Linked DNA regions of Homo sapiens. The protein of the gene in region 2 interacts with the protein of the main gene of each other region in a biochemical or structural test. Each region holds a gene or a part of one and is shown on either strand. Other genes may lie near its edges.

Region 1 (7,027 bases), on a different chromosome or scaffold from region 2:
AACAATATAACCTTGGAAAGTATTTATCGTTTCTTTTCTCCATCACTGAACAATTTTATATCTGGTTCTATCATCACTAATAGAACTTACTGTGATTTCTTTACTTTTTTTTTTTAACTTTCAAGATAAGGCCTTGGTCACTTGCACCCTGGCATTATTTTTAATTTTTATTCTGTGAAAGATACCATGATTATAAGAGACCATCATAACGATACATTCAAGAGCAAAAAAGTAACACAAAGCAAAATTATCACCTTTAAAAAACCAAGGAAATTTTGAATACTTAAGATGGTTTTTTACTTAAAAATATTCTGGATATTTGCTTAAGATGTCAAATACTTTGAATTTTTTTATATTTAACAGTTCGTGGGTATGGCAATAAGGAGCAGGTGTTTGATCTGATTATTTGATGGGCATGCTAACAAGGCATGTGTCATGGGATTGATGAAGCAGCTGCTTAACTTCCTCAGAACATTCTAATGACAACTTTCTAAAGAAGCACCACTTGTTACATAGGCTTCTGTGGCATGTTTTCTATAACTGAATAAATTATCATGACCTACGATTGCATAATAACAGACATATTTATGTACCACTTCCTTAAATCCATCAATCGTTTTAAATCTTCACATCTACCCTCACTCCATGTAACACGTAACACAAAGCCTGCCGCCTAACAATTCCTTTTAGGACCTTTAATGATACATGTAGTGACACTAATTACCTAATCCACTCCTAAACATAATCTGATATTTATATTATGAGCAAAAAAAATAAACAATGCATCAGCGGGCATTCTACAAATGAGAGAATCTCAGAATATCAGAGTTGTTAAGGATCTAAAAGATTAGATAATCCAATCTTCTCATTTGACAGATGGGGACCCCTGAACCCAGAATCTATTCCTGTCACAGGCATATATCTAAATCTTTCTATTCTCTACACATCACATCATTCCTCAAAAGTCCTTCCAAAATGTGTAATAATCTTATTCTCATGTGTTTATTTCTTTCTGAGAACTCCCACATTTTAATTCTTTTTTAAAAATCTAAGATTTATTAGATTTTTTTAAAAAAATGTTGCAGAAAGGCCAGGTGTGGTGGCTCACGCCTGTAATCCCAGCACTTTGGGAGGCTGAGGCGGGCAGATCACGAGGTCAGGAGTTCAAGACCAGTCTGACCAACATGGTGAAACTTTGTGTCTACTAAAAATACAAAAATTATCCAGGTGTGGTGGTTCATGCCTGTAATCCCAGCTACTCAGGAGGCTGAGGCAGGAGAATTGCTTGAACCCAGGAGGCGCAGGTTGCAGTGAGCCAAGATCGCACCATTGCACTCCAGACTGGGTGGGACAGAGCAAGACTCCATCTCAAAAAAAAAAAAAAAAAAAAAAAAAAGTTGCAGAGAAATACTTAACACCAAGGAAAATATTTTTATAAAGTAATTGCTCACTGGCATGCCCCTATGAGAAATTTCTGCAATGTTATATTCCTCATGTTATAGGTAGTGATAATTAGCACACCATATTCCATTAATTTCTTCCTGGACTAAGGTACAATGAAGAAATACTTAGTTTTACTTTAATTGAGTAGAGTTTGTTGCATAGACTACCTATTAATGGAATCAAAATTATGAATTACATATAAATGCCAGCACATCAATGCAAATAGTGAAATTTTCTTCCAAGTAATGCTCTATGGATCAGCCAACAAGGAAGTATTCACACTCACCTGTGTGTGTGTGTGTGTGTATATTCACATACATACACACACACACACACACACAGAAACACAAACTTAGATAAATGACTTATGAGAACAAGCCAAGACCAAAAGTGAATCTAAATCTATTAGAAAAGTTTAAAACCCTACAAAGGAGCGTTTTTTTTAAAAAACTACAGTTGGCACATGATCCGTTCTTCTAACTTTCATGTTTGGCGTCTCCATCCCCTTGGGTGTGGGTTGTAGTTGTAATCAGCTACTGGAAGACAGTAATCAGACCTGGTTTCCATGGACATGATTGCAGAATCATTTCTTGAAGCCTGCCTATAATATGCATATGGCAACTGTGAACCATATTGGGAGGTGGTGGACATATTATTATTGGCTGTGACATTATACTCTTGCCTTCCACATGAGCCCATATAGGCCTTCTGGGTTTGAGGAATATAGGACAGTCTTTCATTCCAATCCTCTGGAGGCCCTGGAAGCACCTTCCTCCGAGCTGCTGAAACCACATTTGCCACAATGGATTCCTGGATGTTTCTGGGTTGGAAAGCATCATCCACTAGACCGAGAGGAGACTTTGCTGCTGCTTCCCAAGGAGTTGGTCTCTTGTTTGCTTTCTCTAGTCCATCGGTTGGTTTACTAGAGTAACTATAAGTAGGCTGGTATACCCAAGGAGATGTAGAAATGGGGGGTGGGACTGATCTTCCAGGAAGAGAAAGGGAGCGCCCACTCTCCTAAAAACAATGAAAATATTAATATATCTCATTCATTTTGGTTTGTGCTGATTGTTACTCCAAAGTATTCCTAGCACCATTACCAAGCACTGCAAAAATAAAAAATAAAAATAAAAATAAATTAACCCCCCAGAATGCTTAGTCTTAAAGCCAGGACATGCTGCCTGTCCCCACCTTTGCAAAAGTGGGCCAAGTGCAAATGGTGGGCTGCCACTTGATCTTACCTTTTGCACTTGGCCCTCCTAGTTGCTCCCCATCTGTGAACGCATAGCCCCAGTTGCTATCATCTTTCTTAGGCATAGTCACTAGGGGCAGGGCGGGGGCTCTGTCATCACTAGGAACCACCTTTCCTTCTCTCTGCCCTCCACATAAGCATATGTGAATTCACATCCCAACCTTATTCCTATCCTGCTTTGCTGGTACAAAATAAACAAAACCTATTGATAACCTCAGAAACAAGCTGTACATTACTGAGCTTTTTACTCTTCCCAAGTGACTTTTAATCTGTTATCTAATGTTGGTCTAGTGAATGAATATAGCAAAAACAAACCAGAGCTTCTTAGATGTAGTTAACATTACTGGTATGATTAACTGCCTGGCCCTTTTCCGCTCAAAATCTATTTATATGGTGACGATCACATGGATTTTTATTTCCTGAGTGGAGTGTATTGCCTTTGTCTCTGAGGGAATTACTCCTGCCTCTTGTTTAATTTGCATTTTGCTTCCTTTCATGTGTATTACATTCCTATTTCTTTGAGAGTTTGTATCCCTGCAACATTCCTCTGTGTATACTTAATATTCAGCTTGACTAATAACACAGGAATATTATTAATTATTATTATATAGAGTTGGGGTCTCATTCTGTTGCCCAGGCTGGAGTGCAGAGCATGATCATGGCTCACTGCAGCCTCAAACTCCTGGGCTCAAGCAATCCTCCTGCCTCAGCCTCCCAAGTAATTGGGACTACAGGTGCACACCACTATGCCTGGCTAAATTTTTAAAAATCTTTTTTACAGACAGGATCTCCCTGTTGCCCAGGCTGGTGGTATTAGACTCCTGGCCTCAAGCCATCCTCCCACCTCAGCCTCCCAAGTTGCTGGGCTTACAGACATGAGCCCCGGTGCCTGGCTACAGCAATATAATTTAATGAAACCTCTTGTGTTCTCATTCTCTCCTTTTACTCCTCTGCATTTCTAGGAATGCTGATGGCTGGCTATCCACATTACATCTTCACACATTCCAATATGCATGAGGCTGTGTGAGATAAGCTCTTGGCAAAAACGCAGAAAGGGTACACCTAGGGGACAGGAGTATCAACTTTGAAAGTATCAAAACATCCTGTTTCCTAACAAAAAACATTACCATGCTTAAAAATGTGCTCTAATTTCATAAACAGTTTCAACAGCTTTTCTCTTAATCAAGTTCTTAACTTTAAAGTGAATATCAATACCTGGATTTAGGCAAAATATCTCAGATTCAAATGTTTCGTTTTTTTTTTATTATTAGGTACACAAAGAAGGTAGATGGTTCATTCCTGGTTTCTATCTGAAGAATAAGGGGTCCAATATAATAAATCTTGATTCTCTCATTTTAATCATTTAAATTTTACTTACAATGGTTGAATCTTAGCAAAAACTTGCTTTCACTAATCTTGTCTTAATTCAGAACCACTCATAATTCTCCTTACTCTATATTTGGGTGAGGTGTGGGGAATCCTGACTTTTAGTCACCTTTAAGGCCTTAGTTTCTATTTCACATTATGTATGTGTTCATTTCATAGACTCATTTAACATAAATTAACATATTGTACACCTAATATTTCCAGGTATTCTTCTATAAGCTGAAGACTTAAAGATGATAAAGTCCTTGCCCTCAATAAGCACACAATCCAGTACTAGTTTTAGCCCCACAGTAGCTGAATTAAGTCAATTACAGAAGACCAGTTTGGGCCAGTGCAGTGGCTCACGCCTGTAATCCCAACTCTTGGGGAGGCTGAGGCAGATGGATCACTTGAGATCAGGAGTTCAAGACCAGCCTGGCCAACATGGTGAAACCCCATCTCTACTAAAAATACAAAAGAATTCTCCAAGGTGTGATGGCATAGGCCTGTAATCCCTGCTACTCAGGAGGCTGAGGCACAAGAATCACTTGAACCCAGGAGGCAGAAGTTGTAGTGAGCTGAGATCACACCACTGCACTCCAGCCTGGGTGACAGAGCAAGACTCTGTCTCAAAAAAAAAAAATAAATAAATAAATAATAAGAAACAAGATCAGTTTAGAGAAGATAGAGAAGAGACTCTTTAACTGTCTTGACAGGAAAAAATAGGAAGTTTTCTAAACTGTGAGAAGTGGTAAGACTCAGTGTGATAAAGAGAAATGTAGCTGTCTGTTGTGGTGTGTGTCTGTATATCACTTTTGTCCTTTCTGTGGAAGAATTAGAACAACAGTGGTCTACAGAGGCCCTGGGAGAGTTTTCAGAGTCCCATGATTTTGCTTTGTGTGGTCTTTGATTATGATAGAGGCAGGAGGCAGACAAATTCTAGGCAGACAGAGGTGGATCCCTGGTGAAACCCCACCTTCAAGCCAAAATAGTCTGAAACTTACAGCCCAAAGTGAGAACTTCTATTCCTGTTTGCCCATTCTCTCCTGATTGGTTCTTTGTGAATAGTGTCTTTTTACCAGTGGAATGTTGCTTTTTCCAAAACTACCTGCGGCCCACCCCACCCACACCGTGTGCCTATTATAAAGACCCCAGACTCAGTCGGTAGAGGGAGAGATGGCCGGACCTTAGAGGAGACGGCCAGACTTCAGAGAGACAGCTGGACTTCGAGGGAGATGGACAGACTACAGAAGAGATGACCTGACTTCAGGGGAAGACAACCTGCCCATCCTCTTCGCTGTCTAGCTCCTCTCTCCACTGAGAGCCATTTTCGTAGCTTAGTAAAATTCTCTGCCCTTCAGTTGTCTGTGTGACCTCATTCTTCCTGGACGCCGGACAAGAGCTTGGGACCCACCGAGTGCAGGTACCCAAAAAGGCCATCACACCGGCCCTTTGCCCTCACGGATGAAGGGCAGCCACCCCACACAATGAGGCAAGAGGCCAACTGAGCTGCTAACAAACCACCGTCTGTGGACGGCAGAACTAAGAGAGCACTGTAACGCTCCCTCTGGGGCTTTGGGGTCGCAAGCACCCCCACCTGGGCACCGCTGTGGGCCACACATGAAGTCTGCTCCTGCTGGCGCCCGGAGTGGCCAGCCAGATCCCACACTCACTCACTCATGTGCTCCCTCCCTCAAGGGGTTGAGCACAGTGAGCTGAGTAAACAGGGCACCCCTGTTGCAAGTCTGGCAAAGAGGCTAAAAAAAATCCTGCATCAATTAGATGTAGCACCTTGAGGGACTGCTTTAGTCAGTTATTTAGGTATTTTAAAAGATAGAAGGCTGAGGGGATGGCAATAGATAAAGGGAGCTAAGACTTTACAGAAATCTCGGTGAGGCCCCTGAACATATATACAGGTGTTTAATTTACTGGCTAATAACTGGAAAAAGAAATAATTATCAATATACTTGGGAGTATTAAGTACTATGTGAAAGCATACATTGCAGTGATAAGACATCCAAAACATTACATGAAAGAGAGGAATTATTTTTTGGTGTTTCTCTTATGCACTGAGTTTGAAAATATTCAGAAGAATTGAAACTTGACAGAATTTATAAAGTTCAAAATATTGTTCAGTGATATCCTATTAACAAAGAGATGAATATGCAGGGAGAAAACTAAAATATTGAGGTATGGTATTGAAAGAGTAAGCCAGGGCTTTCTGAAGGGAAATTAAAACCTAGGATTGAAGCTGAAAGCAAAAATCTCACGCCAAACATGCATATGACAAATGTAACAGCAGTGAGGAAAGAAGAGCAACCAGCTCAATGAGCAAAATGACCATGGCTCTTCTACATTTCCCCAGACTGACGAACATGCCTTCACATTCTTTCAAGTGCTAGTAATAGAGGATAAGATGATAAACCATTTTAGGTTAGAGATCCAACTGGGATATAAATAAATCATTCCATAGGTACAATGTAGTTTCTGTTTGTGTCCAAAATATTGCAAGCCTCTAGCCTCTACTGGCACCCATACTTCTAATTTTAATGTATTTCCCCAAAGCAATTTTCACAGTGTTTTTTGGTGCTGTTTCCTTCTGTCCATCACAGTTTCAAGGCTCAGGCTGTTCTCTGTTTGGCTGGCTGAATGAAGCCATGTGATATACCCTGAGCCAGAAACGACCAAAGGAACCTGAAAGTAACAGAGGTGTTTCTTTTGTTTTGGAGTTTGAATGTCTGACGCTGGAATCCTAGCATAGCATGGATTAGGTCCTGGGTTGTCACTTCCACCATGGGTTATATCATCATCAAGGGAATTTAATATTTTTATATGAGAGCACTTAACTGTAACCAAGATGTTAAATTAGCTTTACCCATCAAATTGCTTCTTTCTGTCTCCCACTACCTTTTAAACTTTATTTAATAAAAAAAAGTTTTCTGCTGCCACTGGAAGAAAACTTAGCAG
Region 2 (7,027 bases):
GGGAACACTTGTCATCCCTGTGCATAACACCCCGTATAGCACTTAGGGTGGAGAGAATCATTCCTGGCTTGTAGACCAAGAAACTGAGGCAGAGAGGAGACAATGAGCCTGAGATTCTGGGGTGCCTCTGGTCACTGTGGAGCTGTGGTGCTGGCTGTCACTGCCCTCTGGGAGTCAGAACCACTGGCCATACTTCCCTTATGATCCCCCAGCCCCACCCTCACGACCCTGGGCTCTGGCACTCACTTGGCCCCTTGACCGTGACCTTGAGCTCCCCGCTGCCGGCACCCTTGGTAAACACCTTGAAGTCAGCCACCTCTTTCACGCGAACACCCTTGGGCTGCAGGCCTCGCCCAGAGGCGCGGCAGGCGTTGGGGTTACAGGCTAGGGGAGGAAGAGAAAGGAGGTTGGGGGTGCTGAGGGGCCTTGGACCACTAGCCCCCACCTCCCTGTGCACAGTCCTTCTAACCCCTCCCAGGCACAGGCAGTGGCCCACGGCCCTGCTCTGGAGCCCTTTGTGTCCCCAGCACAACCGGGGCTGCCGGGCTGGAGCTGGCTACAGGCCCCAGATCAGGCAGGTTACAAGAAAGTTTCCGAGCCAGTGCCACTGGGGAAATGCATGGCAGAGCCTGGGCTGAGAGTGGGCTCAGAGAGACAGGGAAGGCCCCTTTACCCAGCCCAAGGCCATCCATCTAGAGCCCTCTGGGCCTCTCAGGGCACCAAAGCAACCTTAGGATCTAAGTCATGCCACAAAACATCCAGCAATGCCACAGAACAAGGGCTACTTCATAGAACTCGAAGCCTGCCATACAACACAGGCAACGTGTGGACATCAGCCTACCACAGACCGTGGCCAGTGGCAATGAGCCCAGGCCTTGCTATGGAACACAGGCAAAGGAATGGGAATCTCAGCCTGCCACAGAATCCAGAAAAATGGCATGGGACCCACAGGTGCTACGAAACAGGACACGACACATATTCCAGGACTACCATGACCATAGGCGATGGCACTGCCCAAGGGGTACCACGGAACACAGGCAATGGCTCAGAGCCCAGATTTCATCATAGAAATCACCAGGCAAGTGGCAAAGACACTAGACCTGCCACAGAACACAGACAACGGCATGGAACCTGGGGCCTGCCACAGAATGCCAAGGAAGGGGGGGCGATTCCACACGGCCCGGGCCATGCCACACAGCACAGGTGAGGCCAGTCAGCTGCGGCCATGCCTGGCCCCGCCTCCACTGGAGAGCATTAATGTGGCATCACTCTCGGCCTGGTGGACGATGGGCACTGAGTGCAGGGAGAGAACAAGTGGGGCAGTCACCACCTGAGGGCTTGGCATGCAGGCAGTACTCCCTAGATATGCCCCCACCCATACAGCCCCGTCACTTCCGCTCAGCCCTCCCAGGGTGGCACATGTTCTGGGACCCTTCACTGTGGCCTCCCAGCTGTGCTCTTAGGAACTCCAGCCACCTTGGGGGTGGGATGGAGGACTCAGGGAGGGGGTCTCTGCAGACCCCCGCCCCAGCTCTTCCTCCTGCCCCTTGCAAGCCTCTGGCTTTGGTAAGGGCTACCGTGGGGAGCAGTGAAGGGCCCTTACCTTCCGACACATGGACAGGGAAGGGACTGCGGGTGATGGGGGCACCCGCAAAGGCCACATGCACGGTATGTGGCCCCTCCATGGCAGGTCTGTATGTGCAGCGGAACGTGCTGTCACCCTTGTCCTCCAGGGCCACCTCCACTGTGTCCCGCCGGCCCTGTGGGTCCACGATCACCACAGCAACATCGCCAGTGCCGGCCCCTGCCGAAAACAGAGGCTGTCAGCACCACTCTGGACACACACAGCTGCCCCGGTGCCCTCACCCTGAGGCTGCCCACCCTCTGGCTGGCATCCCTGTCCCAGCCTCCCCCCACCCCCACACAGCCCCACATGGTCAGGGGCTTTCCACCTGCACCCCCTGGGGCCCGTCCTACCCGCAGTGTAGATGTCAAAGTAGGTGGGTTTGTTGGCCACATTGCCCACAGGTTCCAGGCCAGGGCCACGGGCTGACACCTTGTTGGCATCTCCCAGGGCCATGCCCACGTTCACCTCAAAGGGACTGCGTTCAATGTTCTGGCCAGCAAAGAGCACGGTCACCTAGGGGTCAGAGGTCAAAGGTTAGCTTCTAGGGGAGAGCAGTCCTGAGAGGGGGCAGAGGGGCACAGCCAGGCCAAGGAGGGTGAGAGGCGGGCAGCTGGGGCTCTGGGCAGGCGCGAGGTACAGGCTGAGAGAGGGGTCCATGCAGCCGGAACCAAGGATGTGAAGAGCAGCGCAGGCAGGGGGGCCTAGAGGGAGATACCTTGTGTAACCCAGCGACCTTGGGCACATAGGAGACAGCATAGGTGCGATCCTTGTCATTGTTGGGAACCACCTTAGCCTATTAGGAAGGAAAAAGATTGGAAGCCTCTCCAATGACCATAGCCCCTCCTGACCCCACAGTGCCTTATGCACCCCAGCCCCACTCAGCCCCCATGGTGACACCTTCCCCAGACTGCACAGCACAGTGTGTGGCTCTGGCAGTCACCTCCGGGCCATTCCTGTTGTTGGCCCCACGCTCTCTGGTTCCAATCCCAAGTGAATCCCTCTGTCCCCAGCGGCCTCTGCATACCTCCTCGGTGTGGCCTTCAGGGTCCTCGATGTAGACCAGCACCTCGCCCACGCCCGCGTCCACCGTCTGCACGGTGAAGTGGGCAGGCTGCAGCACGGTGTTGCCCTGTGGCTCGATGCCTACGGGGCAGGAGCAGAGCCCAGGTTACTCAGGGAGAGCCTACATGTGCCCAGCTGCCCAGGAGGGCCGCCAGGGGCTCACACATACCAGGCCCATAGGCGATGGCTTTCTTGGGGTTCAGCTGCTTGGATCGAACAGGGGCACCAGGTTTGAGCTTGGCCTTGGGGAACTGGGACAGGTAGGTCATAACAGAATGCTCATCCACGTTGGGGTCCACAATCTCCTCAGGGGCAATGACCTGCGATGGAAAGGAGTGATGTCACATGGCGCCCTCTTTTCCCAGCAGCCCCAGTCTCCCCCTGCACCCTGGCCAGGTAAACTTACAGACCCAACCTCTGCCCCTGCCCCCTTTCCCCCCTGCCCCATCTGCGCATGTACCTGGGGCACCCCAAGCCAGTCGTCGGCCTGCTGCATGGCCTCCCGGGCGTTCTCCACGGGCTGGTTGGGGTCCCAGGCCTCCCAGTCGGGGCAGAGACCTGGAGAGGTGATGGAGGGAGACGATGGTGAGGGGCAGCCAGCCGGCCAGGATGCAGGGCATTTGTTCACCCAACACCCTCAGAGGCTGTGGCTTTACACCCCTTCCCACCAGCTCTAGGCCTTGACCAGCCAGGTTCCTGCTGACCCCATCAGCTTCGAGGCCCCTCACCACGTAGGAGCAGGACAGCCCTCTCCACCACCAACAATGAAGCCTTTCTGCCCTGGCTGACGCAGCCTGGCACCAGCCCTGCTGGCCGGCCTCCTGCCTGCCCAGGCCCCAGCTCAGACCTTGAACCCCAAACCCTGGGAGGGTACCCCCTCTCGCTATCTCTTGCCTCATTCAGCTTTCTCAGGGGTGGGCAGAGGAGGTCAGAGTGCCTGTCCCACATATGCCCCTGACCCATCCCCCCTAGAAGGCCTCCTCACAGCTGCCCCGAAGCTCTAGAACTCCAAACGCTTTCCACACCAGTCTTAGGGTATGAGACTCCCTATTCCTTCTAACTGCTCACTTGGGGAAACTGAGGCATTAAAGGGCCTGTGAGGAGAGAATGACTTCTCCTCTGCAGCCCTCAGGAGCCCTGCCTTCCTAACAGGAAGGACGCTGAGGCAGCCCCAGATCACTCCTATGAACGGTGCAGGTGAAGGGGCGCTTGGTTTAGGCCAGAGCTGGAGGAGGGGGACGGCACACCGTTTCGGGGAGGGGGCCGGCTCAAGGCTGGAATCCATGACTGGCTGGAACAGCTGAGCTCACTGCTGGCAGCCACACCAGTTATGGGCCATGGCTCAGCAGCTGGGAATGCTTCCCAGGAGGCTGTGCCCCCGCCTCCCACCCTCTGCTCCCCGGCTGACCCCAGGGTGGAGGAGGATTCTCCCGAGGGGCTGTGACTCCTGGAGAAAACCTATCTTTTCAGGAGATGAGGGGCAGAAAGGGAGCTGTCCATGGGGTACGCTCTAGCCAGTGATGCCTCAGCTTTTTTCATGGCCCCTGAGCTGTCCCCACTTGACCAGGCCAGGACCTACACGGAGAAGGGGCAAGGCTGGCTCACCTGCCACCAGGCAGTGCCCCACTGGCCTCATCCCACATCATCCTGAGCCTCAACCCCTTCTCAAAGTCATCCCAGGGTCTCCCAGAGAAGAGCCTTCTCTGGATCTAACTCCTGGTCTTGCTACAAGTCCTGGTCACCACACTGCCTCTCTCTCAGCTCGGCAGGAATAGTGCCTCGTGGCACAGTAAAAAATTCATGGGGCAGGGAGTCCAGGCCCTGGGCTCTAGGTGGTTCTGCCACAGATAAGCTGTGTGATCTTGGATAAGTCACCAGCCCTCTCTGGGCCATAGTGTCCTTGTCTGTAAAATGAGGGGTTTTAAACCTCTTCCTGCCTCTGCGGAATCTGGCACACTCATCAGGTAGGGCCTGCCACCAGCCAGCGGAGAGCCACAGCTGGAGGAGGACAAACCCTGCAGGGGATCCTGGCCCCCAGGCCCCAGGGTGTGCATTCTGACAACCACACGCCTTGGCAGCCCCAGCTTGTCCCCTCTGTCTTTGGGAGCTAAGGGCTCCATGCTGTGCTCACTGGCCCACTCACCGGGGGCGCAGTTGTCCACCAGGGCGCCCAGAGCTTTGCCGTCCTGCCAGTCACGGTTGAAGTTGGTGATGGGCAGCTGGGGCACCTTGTTCTGGATCCAGCCAAGCAGCCGCTGCTTGGGCGTCTGTTTGCGGGCATCCTCATCATCTTCATCCTCCCACATGGGCATGGAGATGGAGTAGTGCAGGATCAGCGTCCAGATCAGGCCCAGGATCAGCTTCAGGTTCCCATCCACGATGGCCTTGCTGTCTGCAGAGGGGAGGGCACAGACGGGCTCAGGGGCGCCCCACCCTCCACTGCCCCAGAGCACCCTCCCTCACCTGCGCAGCTCCTCGGGCCAGAGCTCTGGGGTCAGGCCTCTAGTCTCTGCCTACCTGACCCTCTCCCTCCTGCGAGGCCCCACTCAGATGCCAAGTTCTTTATGGGGCCCTTCCGGTCAGAAGGCTGCTTCTCTGTGTTCCTGTGGTTCTGGAAGGTACCCTCACCTCAGCTACAGCAAGTGAGTCTGCCTCCTGTCTATGTAATTACCTGGTTTCTTTCTGGCCTTGTGGGATTGTAAGGCTCCCAGGGCAGAGCCTTTTTGTTTTGTTAACAGTTCTACTGAGCTATGATTGACATACAGCAAACTGCACATGCTAGAGAATGAAGTTTGAGAAGCTTTGACACTATGGATATATCACGAAGCCGTCACCACAGATGGAGAATAACGAAGGTACCATCCATCACTCCCCAAAGTTTCCTTGCACACACCCCTTTGTGAGCCCTCCCTCCTGCCGTCCTTGTCCCTCCATCCCAAGCAACAACTGATCTGCTCTCTGTCACGATAGATTACTTTGTATTTCCTAGAGTGTTATATAAATGGAATCACACAGTATATACTCTCTTTTTTTTTGGTCTGGTTTTTTTCACTCTAGACACTAGGTTTTATCTTTCTACAATGAAGGTCTTAAACATAGTAAGGTCTCAATAAATATTGGTTGAATGAATATTTTAAGAACTGAAATTGGAGTGGGGTAGGACAAGTTTCCACTCACACTCTACCCCGAATGCCAGAAAGGGCTTTAGAAACCAAGGGGTTCTGATAGTGGGGCAGGGGTGGGTGGGTGGGGTCCAGTACATTCTCAGTTAAGTCTTGAAAGTCATGTTGTCAAAGGCTGGGGGCCAGAGGGACTCCAGCCTCAGGAGCTGACACACTCCACCCATCACCTCCTTTGAGGAATCCTTTGAGCCAGAACTGGTTCCTCAAGATTTGGGGGGGGGGGGCGCCTAGATCCCCCTTAACAATCAGAAAGAAATATCCAGAAGCCTGGGGTGGCCTAGCATGTAGATAGATCTTTGGAATTCAGCTTACTTGTAAAGGGCAATGAAGTTCTGAAATCTATCAGCTTCCCAAAGCACTGCTTTCAGGAGGCTGGAAGGGGGTGGAAGACAGTCTTGTTTACTGATGTTGCCCGAGAGATGGGAGAGGGTGGAGTGGAGCCTTCCCCTTACACATCTTCTCCCCTCCACCCTTCCCCAGGTCTTGGGGAAAGTGTTAGGAGACCGAGAGCCTGGGAAATCCAGGGCATCCCCTGCCCCACTCCCACCTGCCCCGGGAGGGGTGCCTCAGTCTCCCTGTCCCTCTGGCTGGGGCTCTGGCCGCCTGGGCTCCCCCACCCTGTCACTGATTCATCCTTCCTTCCCCAGCAGCTCCCCAGCCCACCCCCTTCCCCTGGCTCCACTGCAGCACAATGGTTTGGCAGCTTTCAGATTCCATGACACACTCACTCCCTGCCTCCCGGTGCTTTCTCTCAAACACACAGGCTCCAACACTTTCACACAGTCTGGATGCCCCAGTGCCCCCAGCCTCTCACAACCCCGACAGCCTCCAAAGCTCACACGCCCAGAAGTACTTCTTGCAAACTGGAGCCAGACCCCTGGGCAGGAAGCCTTGAGGCTGCAGGGGTTGGGGGGGGCGGTGTGTATATGGGGAGGGTGGTCATTCATATTTGCTGGAGAGGGAAGTTTCTCCCCAGCAACTGGCCCTGGGCCAGACAGCAAGTGGTCCAGGCTTGGGGCAGGAGAAGGGCAGTGGGGCCCCAAGTCCCACTCTGGAAGCAATGACCTCCCTCTCCCTCCTCCCTCTCGGAGGCCAGGCAGAGGAGAGGAGCTCAGCGCCACCAGGGCTCACCAAGCCACTTCTCCATCTGCCTAGG
Region 3 (7,027 bases), 8.1 Mb from region 2:
ATATGTAGTAGGAGCTGGCCTTATGCTCACGAAACACAAAGTAGAACTGCTCCTGCTTTAGCAATTTTACATTCTAATGTCAGTAGGGTGGATGAGGAGTGAAAAAATAAATCAATAAATAAGAAAATGTTACTTGTTAATAAGTACTCTGAAGACAGTCAAATGAGGAAATGTTACAGAGAATGAATAGGAAAGAGAATAAGACTACTGTGAATTAGGTGGCCAGAAAATCACTTGGATGGAGACATTTAAATGGCACCCTGAATAATCACCATCTGGGGGCTGCACACAAAACAGAAGGCCAGATGGCCAGTGTGGCCAGAGGCCAGTGAGCTTGGTGAAAGGTGGTGTAAAATACAGGCAGGAACTAAATGAGGTAGGCCCTTGGAGGCAAAACTGAGGAGTTTGGATTTATTTCAGTTTCAAGTCCATGTCAGGGTTTAAGCAACATAGCAGTAGTCCAATCTCCATTTTTAAAACCAAAGTTCTGGCTGCTATGTTGGCATGAATTGTAAAGTGCTAAATGTAGAAAGGAGAGTCAGGTAAGAAGCTATATCTATGGCTCTGGCAAGAAATGACCACGGTTTGGTTTATTGTCATAAAGAGACTTGAATGGGATACAATTTGGTTTGCACAGAGACAACAAGACCAGCTAAGAGATGAAACGTTGATACTGGCAATTAAGGCGATGGCTCTTCCAATTTTGGTATGAACAACTGCATGGTGGTGATTATGTTTAATTATAAGTGGCAGAATTGTGGGGGGAAAATATTTGAGAGAGGAAGAGGAAGCTAGGGAAATGAGAGTTCCATTTTGGTTAATTTAAATTTTAATGGGCTCTTAGGCATCCAGGGGTAGAAATAATCAGACCAGACCACTCAAGATATGAATCTGATTTTCAGGAGAGACATCATGGCTGTCAATATAAATCAAGAGCATCAGCTGCATAGAGATAGTTTTAAGCTATGAGATTGGACAAAGTCACATAGGAAGTGGGTTTATATGGAGAAGATAAGAGGACGGAAGACTGAGACCTAAAGTACTCTAAGGTTTAGAAATCAGATAAGGGGAAAGGAGGCAGAAAAAAAGATGGAGAAGTGGTAGCCAATGAGATAGGAGGGAAAATAAGAATATTTTCTAATACTAAAGCCAAGAATAAAAGGAGTCTTTCAAGGAGAGAATAGTCAACTAATAAGCTACAAATGAGAGATTGAGTTAGATTTTTATGGAGAAATGGCCATTAGATTTCACAAGTGAAGGTTAATGGGGACCTTGAAAAGTTTATTTTTTAAATGATGACATCTGGTGAAAGGAATGTGATGTGCTACTTTTTCTACTTAAATTTCATAACCAATTGAATGTTGAAAAAACTAAGTGGAAAATTGTGTTATCCAGACTCTAAATTTCAGCATAGAATTATTGAGTATTAAATAAATGTAAAGAACTGTGTCATGGCATATAAAGGAAAAATTGAAGAGCTATCATTACATCATCTGACTTAAAATATTTTCCAATCAAAAAGATTACTTAATGTTAGAATCACTTTCTATAAGGTTGAAAGGTAATTTTTATATTCAGATATTTATAATTTCTGACATTAAAGTCTGAAGCCATATATATTATAGTCACAAAGTAGAAATAGATATGTCCAAAAAATCATTTGACTTAAAGGAAAAAATTCTTAGTTTCAGGTAGAAATGTCTTTCTGTGACTTAAAACAATATATATATATTTTTTCTTTAACTCAGGTATGGTGACATGGTGCCAAAAACCATAGCAGGGAAGATTTTTGGTTCTATCTGTTCGCTGAGTGGGGTCTTGGTCATTGCTCTACCTGTTCCGGTGATTGTATCCAACTTCAGTCGCATCTACCACCAGAATCAACGAGCAGACAAACGAAGGGCACAAAAGGTGCGTATTCAACTCCGTGCAACCATGGTTTAGCACTTCCCACTTTTTATAATGAGCTTTAAAATTTCTTAATGGTTATTCAGTGCTCTGGATTGGTCAGTAGTTGCATCAATCAGGACCGAGTAGGTTATTCTACACTAAAAAGAAACGTAACATCTCAGTGGCTTAAAACAATAAGCAATATTTCTGAATCATGCTACAAGTCCATTACTTGTCCAGAGAATAGAGAGTCCATCTTGACAGTGTACTTCTGCAGTCACTCCAGCAGGAGTAAAGGGCATGATGAATCACACACTGCTTCCTAATGTCCCTCCTGGAAGTGGTTTGAGTCACTTTCTTGTCTATTGCATTAACCAAAGCAAATCACACAGCAATGTCTAATTTCAAAGTGGGCAGGAAAATACAATTCTACTGTGGGGCCAGAAGCAGAAAATAAGAAATATTTGACGAACAGCACTAATGACAGTAGCAAAATCAGAAACAGATTCTTGGCAAATTTTATTAAAATCAGATTTCTAGATCTGATTCATTGAGTCTCTATCTATCAAGGGTCAAACTGGTTCCAGTAGACGAGGGTTATTAAAGGTCACCAAGATGTGTCTCAGATATTTTACATAGTTGACACAAGAAGTAATCTGATCATCTGTAGCTGAATTTTATTCTCGTCCCAGCAGCTTACCGTTTGTTTGAACTTCATGCCAGGTAATTAATCCCTCTAAGAATAAGCATAGCGTACACTCAACTGTAAAATGGGGAAAATAATAAATAATAAGATTAAGATTATATACAAGTATATGTAAATTTATATAAACACATCATATTATCAATATTTAATGTTTACTGATGGTTTATATGTGTCAGACATTAGCCTAATGTTTTTCACAAAAGAATTCATATGTTAAAAGACAAACCTTAGCCAAATTAAATTGAAAAGTTTAATTGAGCAAAGAACAACTCATGAATTGGGCAGCCTTTGAAGCCAGAGTAAGCTCAGAAACTCCAGCACAGCCGCATGGTAGAAAAAGATTTACAGGCAGTAAAAGGAAAGTGACATACAGAAAACAAAAGTGAGGTACAGAAACAATTGTACTGATTATAGCTCAGCGTTTGCCTTATTTGAACACAGTTTGAACAGTTGGCCCCCTTTGATTGGCCAAAACTCAGCGGTTGGCACAAGAGTGGGTTACAGTCTGTTTACTCCTCCATGTAAGTTACAGTTCACTATGCATAGAGAAACCTTTAGGCTAAACTTAAAATATGTAAGGAGGCAACTTTAGGCTAAACTTGAGTCAACACATACAACCTTCACAAAAACTCTGGCGTTAGTTACCATTATTATCCTCATTTTTATAGATGGTAATCCTCAAGTACCCCCAAATTAAGCAATTGTAAAGTCACATACCTGTTAAGTTGGAGATCCACCATTCCATCCAAGCCATTCTGGCTCCCAGGTTCATATACACAAACACTATGATAAAGTGCCTCTCAGAAAAGCTATGTAAATGTTAGCATACTTCCCTTCCCCAATCTTTGTCAAAATAGTCACCTTGAGAGGCAGGGCCCTTGTTGCTTAGAAATAATCTTGGAAATCTCTTTTGTAGTTTCCTTTGGACTTATGGCACTGTATTTCCAGTGTTCTTCATGGTCATTATATCTTTGTCCTTTAAGGATAGTTTCATTTTTTAAAAAATATCCAAAACCATTCATAATCATGACTAAAGTAGATGCACAACCTAGGTGATGTGTTATAACTACAAAATATCATGAGAGACTTTGATATAGTTATTCACTGGCTTTGTAGGTAATTCCAGAACGGGATCTTAAGCACGCATATGAACAATGTCAGCCTCTTAAGTAAAGTATACAATCTCATAAAGTAAGTCTTTGGAAAGTTCTAGTTAATCACTGTGGCCACACAGCATATTTGTCCAGAGAACTAATTTATGCCCACTGTCAAAGATCTTCTTCCTTTAGCAAAGAATCACTTTTTCAAGCTCTGTAGTTACTTGCTTTATGGAACCCTTCATTTTTGGACAAATGCCTAGCCTTTAATTATTACAGAGAAGAGTTAGAAATAGTCCAGTCAACATGGATATAGAGAACTGATCATCTAACGAATAGGGAGGAGTAGAAAAAGGCACCCTCTGGACAGTTGTAGTCTTATGTAGGGAATACATACCCTTGGCAAGCAGAGGTAAAGGGATTTCAGCCACAACTGACCCCACCACCAGGGACCTTCAAACATCACACTCATGACGCTGCCCATACAGTACAGTCCCTCTACTGAGTACAAACACACATTGTCTAAAATAACAGGATCCTACCAAAAGTTTAACTTTCAACCACCCATCTATCTCCATTCTAGACATTTCTCCTTTAGTATAAGAGCCAACTGTATGAAAACTATAGAAAGCACAAATCTAAATTTCCGATAAACCAATTTCCCAAACACTTGTATTTCTTCAGAGTTTGTCATCTGCAACAAAGAAATCAATAAAGAAAACCTTAGAATATTTTAGAAGCCTTTTGGTCTACTAAATATTAAATACTAAAATACATTTAGAAATCAAAAGTAAATAATGTGACATTCTAAAAGTACACTAATTGAAAAGTATATTTTGTGAATGCTTTTTGGTATCTTTAAATATTTGCTATATTTTTGGTTTCTGCCATAATGCAATGAATTTTACAGAGTTTTACTACTGAAAAAATTGGATTAATAAAGTAAAATATAATAACCAAGTATAATATGTCCAGTATGTAGACTGTGACCAATAAACTGAACATAATCTTCTAAGAAAGAACAGTGGATATGAACTAAATAAGTTACCAGGGGATATTTTCTATTTTCCTTCCCAAGAGATTAGGGGGAAAAAAAAGCAGAACAAACGCCCATTAGGCTAAGACAGTTTATTTATCTGGGACTGGGCTATGTGCCAAATATTAAAGTTATGCAAAAATGACCAGCTAATTCAGTCAAGCAAGCATTCAATTCAGTAAAAACGTCAGTCCAACTGACTAATAAAAGTAATATTACAAAATGGTTTGTTAGACCATATTTTTGGTGTTTAATTCAATTGCCACACTAAGACCAAGCAAAAGCATGAAATAGACACAATATTAATTTTAGAAAATTCCTATCATCACTATCAGAAATACTTTCCTTCTTCTAGTTTCTTCCATTTGCAAGTACTCTTCCTACTTTTGCTGTCCACTCCTGCCATATACAGGGAATACATGGTTTACCCCATTTCTATCAATCATTGATAAAGTCTTAACTAAATACTGACATGCTGGTGGGTATAGGCCTAAACTGTGACACCTCTCCTCTACTCCCACCATTGGTAATTATATTTTAATAGATTTATTGATTCTCGTAGTTATACTATAAGTATTTACTGAGTAGAATGTATTAGCCAAAATAAAGCTAGATTAATGCAATGACAAGTGGCAGGTTGACATTTTGAAGCAGCTCTTTTAATATATGGATCACATCACCTAATCATCTGCATACTCACAGGCTAACCTGTGAGTAATTATCATATAATAATCATAGTAGTAATTATAGTTATAATTTAATAATACTAATTGCAACAACAAAAACCCTCACTAGTTTCTAGAATGTCCCAGGTGTTTTATATCTGTTTTTTTTGTAATATTCACAATCAACTTGCAAAGGAAGTATACTATTTCCATTTTACAGATAACTTGCTCATGCTCACAAACCTAGTGATTAAAGTCCAAGGCAAAAAAATTCTAGTATTATTTGAACTATGAATATTTTAGGATATTCCTATAGATAATTCTAAATGCAGTGAGAAGTTTAGAATCAATGAGCCAATGTATAGTGTAATATTTTTAAATTTCACATTGACTTAGAAAGACACTACCCATATGTAGTCTGCCATTTATCACACCCTGCTAGGGTGGTTTTCAAACTTTAGATTCATTAGAATCATCTGGAAAGCTTACACACACACACACACACACACACACACACACACACACACAAACAAAAAAAAAAAAAACAAAACAAAAAACAGATTGTTGAGCCCTACTCCCAAATCATCAGACTCTGTAGTTTTGGGTTAGAACCTGAAATTTTGCTAATAAATTCCCAGGTGATGCTGATATTGCTGTTTGGAAGACCACATTTTGAGAACCACTGCCTAGTACATTCAGCAATGTCAAAATCAAAGATTTTTATTTAAGTAGAATAATGAAAAAGCAAGAAATAACTACTTGCTAGAACCTGAGAATGATCTCTTAGGTTATCTACTGTTAAAAACAAAATTACCCAGCTCCTAATTCCACCTAAGAATTTGGTCTTGGATGCTCTCCTATATCCTCTTTCAGTTCTCACCGCTTCCACCATGGAATCCTCTTGTAGACCTCTCATTGCTTAGCCTCTTCCACTAACCCAAATCCCAGCCCTTTTTCTGCTTAGCCCTGCCATCTCCAGGATTAACCAAGTTCTGGACCTAGGAATGTTGCACTGTCTGCCACTGACTTCTTTCTTCTCTTTTTATTGTAGTTTGGTACTAACTTGTCTCATTTCTAGCACAGCTATTTTTCTTAGCAAGTGAAAAGATTCCAATAAATGCCTTAAACTTCTAAAAGGTGATAAAGTTTACTATGTTACCTCAAACTGAGGCATTTTACTAACCCTTAAATGAAAGAAACAACTGTAAGCAAAATTTCCAGAATGCATGTTACAGGGAGTGTGGAGGCAGGCATTTGAGGAATAAGGAATTACCAAAGAGAAACACCTTCATTACCTCACTTTTAAGGCTACCTAGGATACCTTTATTTTTCAAAAGATTTTGTGATTTGGTAACAAGATGGCCCAATAACTTCCTTTAATCTACCTCATACCTCATCTAGAAATGACTGACCATTTAAAGAAATCAATGTCTCAGTGGTGTTTGGCTTATAGATCCTTCTCAGATTGACTTCCACCCTCTGTTCCACAACATAAACTATAAAGTTTATGTCACTTGGCGTAATTAAAAAACAATCTACTTGATAAAACCCATTGTGTTCCACTGCATTCTAGCCTGTGAGTACTTCACAATACAAGATTTCTATGTCAAATTAGTTTGAGGAAATTTGCAGA

Evidence for each region. Proteins that work in one complex are often made in the same cells at the same time.
Region 1: the proteins of FLNC (region 2) and SYNPO2 form a complex in vitro, tested with the Homo sapiens proteins (one study listed by BioGRID).
Region 3: the proteins of FLNC (region 2) and KCND2 form a complex in vitro, tested with the Homo sapiens proteins (one study listed by BioGRID).

The regions. Positions count from the first base shown.
Region 1 is NC_000004.12:119,052,834-119,059,860, reverse strand, and holds part of SYNPO2 (synaptopodin-2), read right to left. Parts: intron 2,461-7,027; coding exon 1,927-2,460; 3' UTR 1-1,926. UniProt on the Homo sapiens protein: Has an actin-binding and actin-bundling activity. Can induce the formation of F-actin networks in an isoform-specific manner.
Region 2 is NC_000007.14:128,833,380-128,840,406, reverse strand, and holds part of FLNC (filamin-C), read right to left. Parts: intron 5,082-7,027; coding exon 4,833-5,081; intron 3,248-4,832; coding exon 3,150-3,247; intron 3,010-3,149; coding exon 2,859-3,009; intron 2,771-2,858; coding exon 2,652-2,770; intron 2,421-2,651; coding exon 2,343-2,420; intron 2,141-2,342; coding exon 1,978-2,140; intron 1,805-1,977; coding exon 1,604-1,804; intron 385-1,603; coding exon 247-384; intron 1-246.
Region 3 is NC_000007.14:120,731,155-120,738,181, forward strand, and holds part of KCND2 (A-type voltage-gated potassium channel KCND2), read left to right. Parts: intron 1-1,748; coding exon 1,749-1,911; intron 1,912-7,027. UniProt on the Homo sapiens protein: Voltage-gated potassium channel that mediates transmembrane potassium transport in excitable membranes, primarily in the brain. Mediates the major part of the dendritic A-type current I(SA) in brain neurons.